Homo sapiens: one gene and its partner. The gene in region 2 interacts genetically with the main gene of each other region. Each region holds a gene or a part of one and is shown on either strand. Other genes may lie near its edges.

Region 1 (3,809 bases), on a different chromosome or scaffold from region 2:
TTGAACCCGGTAGGTGGAGGTTGCAGTGAGCTGAGATCATGCCACTGCACTCCAGCCTAGGCAACAGAGAGAGACTCCGTCTGAAAAAAAAAAAAAAAAAAAAAAAAAGAAATCCAAAGTACAAACAGTTATTTGAACCTTACTATTTGAACCTTACTAAAGCACCAGAATGAATATCAATTTCCCTTTATTGCCAATCATCTTGCAAGAGCTGGAGATGACAGTAACCTTCAATGACCCACAAGACACCAACTCCCAAGGCTCCTGTCACTGCCACTAGTGACACTTGGCTCTCAACTGGTACAGCATTTGCGCAGGGGCATACATAGGGTATGCTCAACTACATAGCTTAGGAGTAAGGGAAGGGCTTCAAATGGGAGTTGCTGAAGTCCCAACAAGCCCAAAGACTGGCCTCAGGAAGCTGTACAATGAGGTGCTAGACTCTCCTTCATCTTCTGAGATGGAAACCCTACAACACTGGACACCCAGACAGAGGTGGACAGAGGCTGGGGAATACATGTATGTACCTTCTTTTTGTTTTTAATTTCAATTAGTTCCCGTGGATCTGGCAGGAGACAGGAAAATCGGGGTGGCTTCCGGGCAAACTTTTTGTCAGCTAGGAGTAGGAAGAAGAGGGGGGAAATATCTGTAACACCTTTTTTTACCCAGATAAGGACTTTTGGAAGGTCACCAATATACTCCCCAGTTTCAAGAAGGAGCCTCAGAAATCTTGTCCTCACCAGTCTTCCACTTCCCTGGAAGTCCTATCAACTGAGGGTCCATATGTTTGCTTCCCTCTCTCTGAGTCTGAAGGCGAGGCGGGCTACCAAGGCTTGCTTAGTTACTATCCTAGGTGTCTGCTCCCTCCCTCTGCTCTTCACCAGGCCCTCCAGGTGAGGAGCTTAGGGTCATGGACACCCAGTACCCACCCCCAGAGTCAACAGCTTCCTCCAGATCACTGCATCCTGATTTCCCATGTTCTGGTGGCAGCCGCCCTCCACCTGGCAGATGCAGGCCTGGGATGTCTGAGGCCATGCCTACAGCTTTCCCATCGCTGGCAGTTCTCTCAGCTGGTAAGAGAGAAGAAGATACGTGAAGACTTATAGGGTATGAAGCCAAGCAGAGCTGCAGGATAGATCAAATCCCAAGCCCAGAAGACCTGCATGGTTCCTGCACAGGGCGCCAGCCCTGAGCAGGACAAACCCAAGCCAAAATAAGTAGTCCCTGTCCCAGCCAAGCATTAGATTCTCTAATTTAATGAAGAGATTACCCAGTCACTTTCCCTGATCTTCTGCAACCTCAAATTTCAAGGGGGAGCTAGAGAGGACTAATTAGAGTGGAGGCAGATATTGGGGATGAGGGATGGTGGGACCTGGAGCTTTCAGAGACAGAAATCCTATATTCTTTAATCTCTGTTCTCTTCTCTTGCCATAAAGAAATAATAATTCTGTAAAAAACCAAAGTGGGGAGGAGGAAAAAGGGAGAAGGCTATGAGTTCTACTAATCTGCCTGACTGGCCTGTGATTTAAACTGCCAAAGCCCAGAAACAGAATTGGGAGCATCCCAGGGGAAGTGATATGGGGACAGGAAAAACGACTCAGAGAGTAGAGAAGGGATAAGCATAGAACACTGGGTTCATCAAAGAAAGAAATGCCTCTCACTATTGCTAGCTTCTCGGGTGCCATCTACTATCTCACAGCTTGGTCTGGCTGTCTCCTTCTTCTCTTGCTGGGTGAGGCTGTTGAGGACTTTAGCCTGGCAGTGGGCCTCGGTGCTGTCAATCACTGTCAATAGGGCATCAAGAGATAGTAGGTGTGTTGTATAGAGTTGACCAGACACAGGGAAGGCATTCTGGAAAGTAAACAGATCAATTGGACTTGTAGTTAGGAGAACACTTTACACTTTGATCATTTTCTAAAATTTCCAAAACTTCTTCTAACTTGTACATTGCCCTTAGAAAACGTCTTTCTGGCCGGGCGTGGTGGCTCATGCCTGTAATCCCAGCACTTTGGGAGGCCGAGGCGGGTGGATCACAAGGTCAGGAGATCGAGACCATCCTGGCTAACATGGTGAAACCCCGTCTCTGCTAAAAATACAAAAAATTAGCCGGGCGTGGTGGTGGGCACCTGTAGTCCCAGCTACTCGGGAGGCTGAGGCAGGAGAATGGTGTGAACCCGGGAGGTGGAGCTTGCAGTGAGCCGAGATCGCGCCACTGCACTCCAGCCTGGGCAACAGAGTGAGACTCCATCTCAAAAAAAAAAAAAAAAAAAAAAAAGAAAAGAAAAGAAAATGCCTTTCTTCTATTTCCCAGCTCTCAAGTGTTCCCCTCTCTGTATGTAACATCCTCACTACCACCAGGGAGATTTCCTTTATAATGCGTTTTTTCCTAGAAGCCAGTTATAGTGCTCAGCACCTTGGACAGCAGCTTTGTGAGTTCCTCAAAGAGGTTGGAACAGTAGTAGTCACAATCATAGTTGATGTAGAGCTCTGTGACAAAGCTGGGGATGCGCCAGAGCTGCACAATGGCCTCCAGTGCCATCTCCTTCATCTCATAAGGCATCTTGGGGTTCTCCACAGTGATGATCTCCATAAGCTTTTTGATGTACATCTGGCAATAACCCAGTAATTGCCATTTGGGTGGGGAAAGGATTCAAGATAGGAAGAGAAAAAATTAGACAGGAAAAACATTAAACAGGATGCAGAAGCCCAGCCTAGAGGCATGTATTAAGAGACACCCAAAGGTATTCCATCCCCTAAATATATCTCTTCTTTGGCCTCCATGTTGGGGGATAAGGCCTGGCTCTCTACCACATACCTGGTCCCAGACAAGTTGCCTCTTGCCCTTTTGTGCTATGTGAACATGACCTGGTCCTATTTAGAGTTCCTTTTAGCAATTTAGTGACAATGCTGGCTTGACTTACCTACCTGTGTTGCAGAGTAACTGCTGGGCAGAAGAGCTGTCCCTATTCATGGTAAGGTTACCTGGCAGTTCTCATATTTGGGGTCAGCCAGTTTCCTTTGGTCTCCTTTTAACTTTTCCACAAAAGAGGCCAGTTGATTGAACCGAACTCTGGAGGCTAAAAGGACTCTCCTATAGGAAGTCCCTAAATCCTACCCCTGTAGCATGATAGAGCTGGCCCCACTGAAGATGCCATATATCTCCCTATTTTTTTTCCCCCTTTTCTTTCCACATCAAGAAACTCACCTCCATTTGGAACTTGAGGTGCTCTCGCATGCTCTCAAACAGTAGGAAGCATACTCGCAGGGAAGCAGCATAAAGGTTTAGTCGCTCTATGCTGAGTAGCTGGAGATGAGAGCAGGGTAGGCCATGAGTTTTTTTTTTTTTTTTTTGAGGCGGAGTTTCACTCTGTTGCCCACGCTGGAGTGCAGTGGCGCAATCTCAGCTCACTGCAACCTCTGCCTCCTGGGTTTAAGATATTCTCCTTCCTCAGCCTCCCAAGAAGCTGGGATTACAGGCGCACGTCACCATGCCCAGCTAATTTGATATTTTTAGTAGAGACTGGGTTTCACCACATTGGTCAGGCTGGTCTCAATCTCCTGACCTCGTGATCCGCCCGCCTTGGCCTCCCAAAGTGCTGGGATTACAGGCGTGAGCCACTGCACCCAGCCCGGCTGTGAGGTTTCTGAAGCTGACTATGGCTCAACCAAGAGAGGCAGAAGAGGCAAACTGAGTGAAGGTGTCACTGAGGTCCATTGCTTCCAGGGAACTCTACATCTAGCCATTCCTATATTTCTCTCTGGCTGCCAGAGTCCCTGGGGAACTACTGGAACCCTCTTACTAAAACTAC
Region 2 (3,809 bases):
TTTCACTATGTTGGCCAGACTGGTCCCAAACTCCTGACCTCAAGTGATCCATCCACTTCAGCCTCCCAAAGTGTTGGGATTATAGGTGTGAGCCACTGCGCCCGGCCAGGTATGGTTCTTGACACAAGGTCACAATCCCCACCTTTACAGGTCCCGTACCGTGTCAGGTCACTCTCCCAGACCCAGGAAAGCCACCTCATCCCTGCTGGAAGCTGTTGTCCAAGGCAACAGAGGAAGGAAGGCACGAGGAGGAGGGGCAGTGCTGAGTTTAAGTTAAACACCCATATGAATTTATTAAATCCAGACTGTGTTAAAGGGCGGCGGTCTAGGAGGGGGAGTGTGGTAGGGGGACGAGGGACAAGATGATGAACGGCCGTGGGCATCCCGTAGGGGGGCCCGGCCCCACCCCCGCCCAACCCACCCCCTCGGCAACGCTGCATCAGCTTCACCATGATTCCCAGTGGTGCTGGGCTGGCAGGGCGAGATGGCTGGAAACACAGAGGGACAGAGGGACAGACAGCGCCTCCACAAACAAACCCTGGCCTGCCCCGGCCCCTACATCACACGCTGGGCCCTGACCTGAGGCGGGCCTCCCACCGCCCCGGCCTGATCTGTCCAGGGAAAGGGCGACAGGGAGGGGAGGCGAGGGGGCCGGGACGCAGGGGTAGTGGTCGCCAGGAGCCGGAGCAGGTGAGGACCAGTCTCGACTAATCCTTTTTCTTGTCCTCTGCTGGCTTTGGAGGGGCTTCCTGGGGCTCGCTGGCAGAGCTGGCCCCCTGGGTGGGCTTGGTGGGCAGGGACGTGGAGGCCTCCTCCCTGGTGGCGGTGGTCGTGGTGGGTGCAGGTGTGGGCGTGAGGGCCCCTGCTGCTGTGGGAACCTCGGCCACGGGGGCGGCAGCTGTGGGGTCTTCTCCACTCATGCCAAACTCGTTGACTCGGGTGGGGTCGACGCGGTAGATCCACCGTTGGTAGAGGTAGATGAAGAAAACCACATCTGGAGAGGGGTGGGAGGCAGTGTGAGGTCGGGCTGGCCCGTCCACAGCCAGGTGGGCCTGGGTGGAGAGGGCGTGATGCAAGGGCGGGGCCGAGCCCCCTCAGACTGAGCACCCCATCTGGGGCCGTGGCACCCCCTCAGGCCTGGGCCCTAAAGACTGCCTCAGGGCCCTGTTCCGGTGGGAGCTCCCACCTGCCCACCGGGCCTCACCGTCCCGCAGGCAGCCGATCCGGTACATAACGGGCATCTTGATGACAAAGGCGAACAGGTCGTCGATGAATGTGTTGAGGGCCTTGTAGGTGAGCATGCGCCAGGGAAGGTGGGCCACAGACTTGAGCTTGTAGTTGATGAAGAGCTGGGGCGTCATGGTGATGAAGCCTGCAGTGAGAGCACCCATGAGCAGAGGGATGGCCTCTCCCACCTCTCCCCTGTGCACTCTGCACTGGCCATACCAGCCCCCTCACCACTTCCTACACCTGGGCACACTCTACCACTTCCTATACCTGGGCACACTCTACCAGCGGCCTCTGCACTGGTGGGGCCTTCTGTCACATCCGCACAGCTCTCTCCCTGGATATCTGAGGCCTCTGTTTAAATGTCCTGTCCTCAGAGGGGCCCCCGGACCCCTATTAATGTGCATCCTCCCACCACTCTGCCCTTCACAGTACTCACTATTGGCTGTGATTCACCCGGTCTTTTGTTTTTTGAGACAGGGTCTCACTCTGTCACCCAGGCTGGAGTGCAGTGGCGTAATCATGGCTCACTGCAGCTTCAACCTCCTGGACTCAAGGGATCCTCCCACCTCAGCCTCCCAGGTAGCTGGGACTACAGGCACGCACCACCACTCCCCAATAATTTCTGTGTTTTTTTGTAGAGATCGGGTCTTGCCAAGTTGCCCAGGCTGGTCACGAATTCCTGGGCTCAAGTGATCCTCCTGCCTCAGCCTCCCAAAGCATTGGGATAACAGGTGTGAGCCACTGCACCTGGCCCTACTTGTTTACTTGTTCCCAAGACACAAAGGCCCCCTGAGAATGAGGACTGAAGCGTACTGTTCATGTCCTCCCTGAAGTCCTCTCTGACCCCAGATGGGGCCATGTGTGCCCTCGGGCCTCCCTATATCCCAGCTCTGCCCACCCTAGGTTGTCCCTGTCTGGGGATGGGTCTGTCTCCTACACTGGGGCTGTGAGCCCTGCGCAGCATGGGGCCTGCTCTCTCCTGGGGCGGCCGGACCGCTCACCGAAGGTCAGCAGGAAGCCGTAGAGCATGCTGAGCACCCAGGAGTACCAGCCCTTGTGCTCCAGGTACAGAAGACTGTAGACGGCATAGCAGCCCAGGAGCGGGAAGAGGATCCAGGACAGGTACCGGAATGCCATCTGTGGGGCCACAGGGTGGGGCTGTCAGCCAGCTCCTCAGCCCTGCCTGGCAGCCCTGCTCCCCGCCCTCACCCACCACACCTGGTCTGGCAGGCCGGGCAGGGGGAATTTCCAGGTAGCCCTGGGGACTCCGGACTCGCCCAGGGAAGCAGTTATGGCAGATGGGGGACACAGAGGATGTGGCACAGGCTGTAAAGCATGGGTCCGGCAGACAGATGGCCGGCCCCGGGTGCCTCAGGGATACGTGGTACCTGGAGACCACCCCCAGGGGCCCACTGTGCAGGACACTCACATCATCATACACTTTGGTCGAGGACTCGATATACGTGGACTTGTCCTTGAAGGATAGGCGGGGGAAGATTCCTGCCACCCTGTGCTCTCGGTCCAGCTGTGGATGAGGTGGGTGCCATGGTCAGTTGCTACGCTGGCTCCCACCCCACAAGCCAGAACCAGCCCCTGCCCTTCCCCACCGTTCCCAGTTCCCCTGCCCCATGTGTGACCCAAAAAATCCCCTGGTGAGAAAATCCCCTCAGTCCTGGGAGTGAGGCACTTGCTGGGAATCCCCCGGGGGCCAGCTCCAGGGTCCAGCTGGGCCACACTACCCCCTCCCAACCCCTGCAGCTCCCGAGACAGCATGGCGCCCCAGCCTTACCCGGACGTCCATGACCTTGGTGATCTTCCAGAGGTCGATGAGGACCCCAATGAAGACGCTGACCTGGACCACGAAGTTGGTCTCGTTGTCCAGGATGTAGAGGAGGACCACGAATGACTGGAAAACGCCGAAGAAGACGGAGCGCACGGACAGGCCCTCCAGGGACTGCCGGCTGTTCCAGAACTGGATATCTGTGCGCAGGGGGTAGGGGGGAACCAGGAGGCTGAGGAGGTGCTGAGACCCTACTGCAGCTCCCTCAGGCCCCCTTGGCCTGCATCCTCACACCCTGGGGTGGGGCTGGGTCCTCAGGAGGGGTGCTGAACGAGACCCCTCTCTCCCAGGAAGGCTCTCATATTCATTGGGTGACCCCCAGAGCACCAGACAGGCGGCACCCCTGGAGCCCTCCCATAGGACGTCAGCACCCAGCACCCCAAGGTGCAGTCCCTTGACTGATGGTGACGGTGACTGGTGCCATGGACAGGGCTCACCACGTGCCAGGTGCTAAGGACTGGTCAGGGAAGCTGCTTCCCTGAGGCCAAACAGCCTGGCATGGCAGAATCTGAAGGGACGCGGGGTCTGTGCCACACCATGGTGCCAGCTCGCCCTCCCTGGGAAGGAAGATCTGTGGCATGCACTTCAAGACCACCTCCTCCAGGCCCCTGCCCTGACACCGGGAAGGAACTGGCTCACAGCCATGCTCAGGAAACTGAAAAGGGCCCTGGGCTCCAGTCTGGAGCTCCTTCCAGTGCTCCGCCTAGATGCTGCCAAGGATCCATGTCAGCATGCTCCT

What was found.
Region 1: changes in CLPTM1 (region 2) and GBF1 together harm fitness more than expected from each alone (negative genetic interaction), as found in Homo sapiens cells (one study listed by BioGRID).

Annotation. Positions count from the first base shown.
Region 1 is NC_000010.11:102,360,517-102,364,325, reverse strand, and holds part of GBF1 (Golgi-specific brefeldin A-resistance guanine nucleotide exchange factor 1), read right to left. Parts: intron 3,305-3,809; coding exon 3,206-3,304; intron 2,609-3,205; coding exon 2,414-2,608; intron 1,852-2,413; coding exon 1,662-1,851; intron 1,071-1,661; coding exon 930-1,070; intron 617-929; coding exon 528-616; intron 1-527. UniProt on the Homo sapiens protein: Guanine-nucleotide exchange factor (GEF) for members of the Arf family of small GTPases involved in trafficking in the early secretory pathway; its GEF activity initiates the coating of nascent vesicles via the localized generation of activated ARFs through replacement of GDP with GTP.
Region 2 is NC_000019.10:44,989,796-44,993,604, reverse strand, and holds the end of CLPTM1 (putative lipid scramblase CLPTM1), read right to left. Parts: intron 3,211-3,809; coding exon 3,020-3,210; intron 2,756-3,019; coding exon 2,660-2,755; intron 2,368-2,659; coding exon 2,232-2,367; intron 1,373-2,231; coding exon 1,205-1,372; intron 995-1,204; coding exon 708-994; 3' UTR 264-707; downstream 1-263. UniProt on the Homo sapiens protein: Involved in GABAergic but not glutamatergic transmission. Binds and traps GABAA receptors in the endoplasmic reticulum (ER).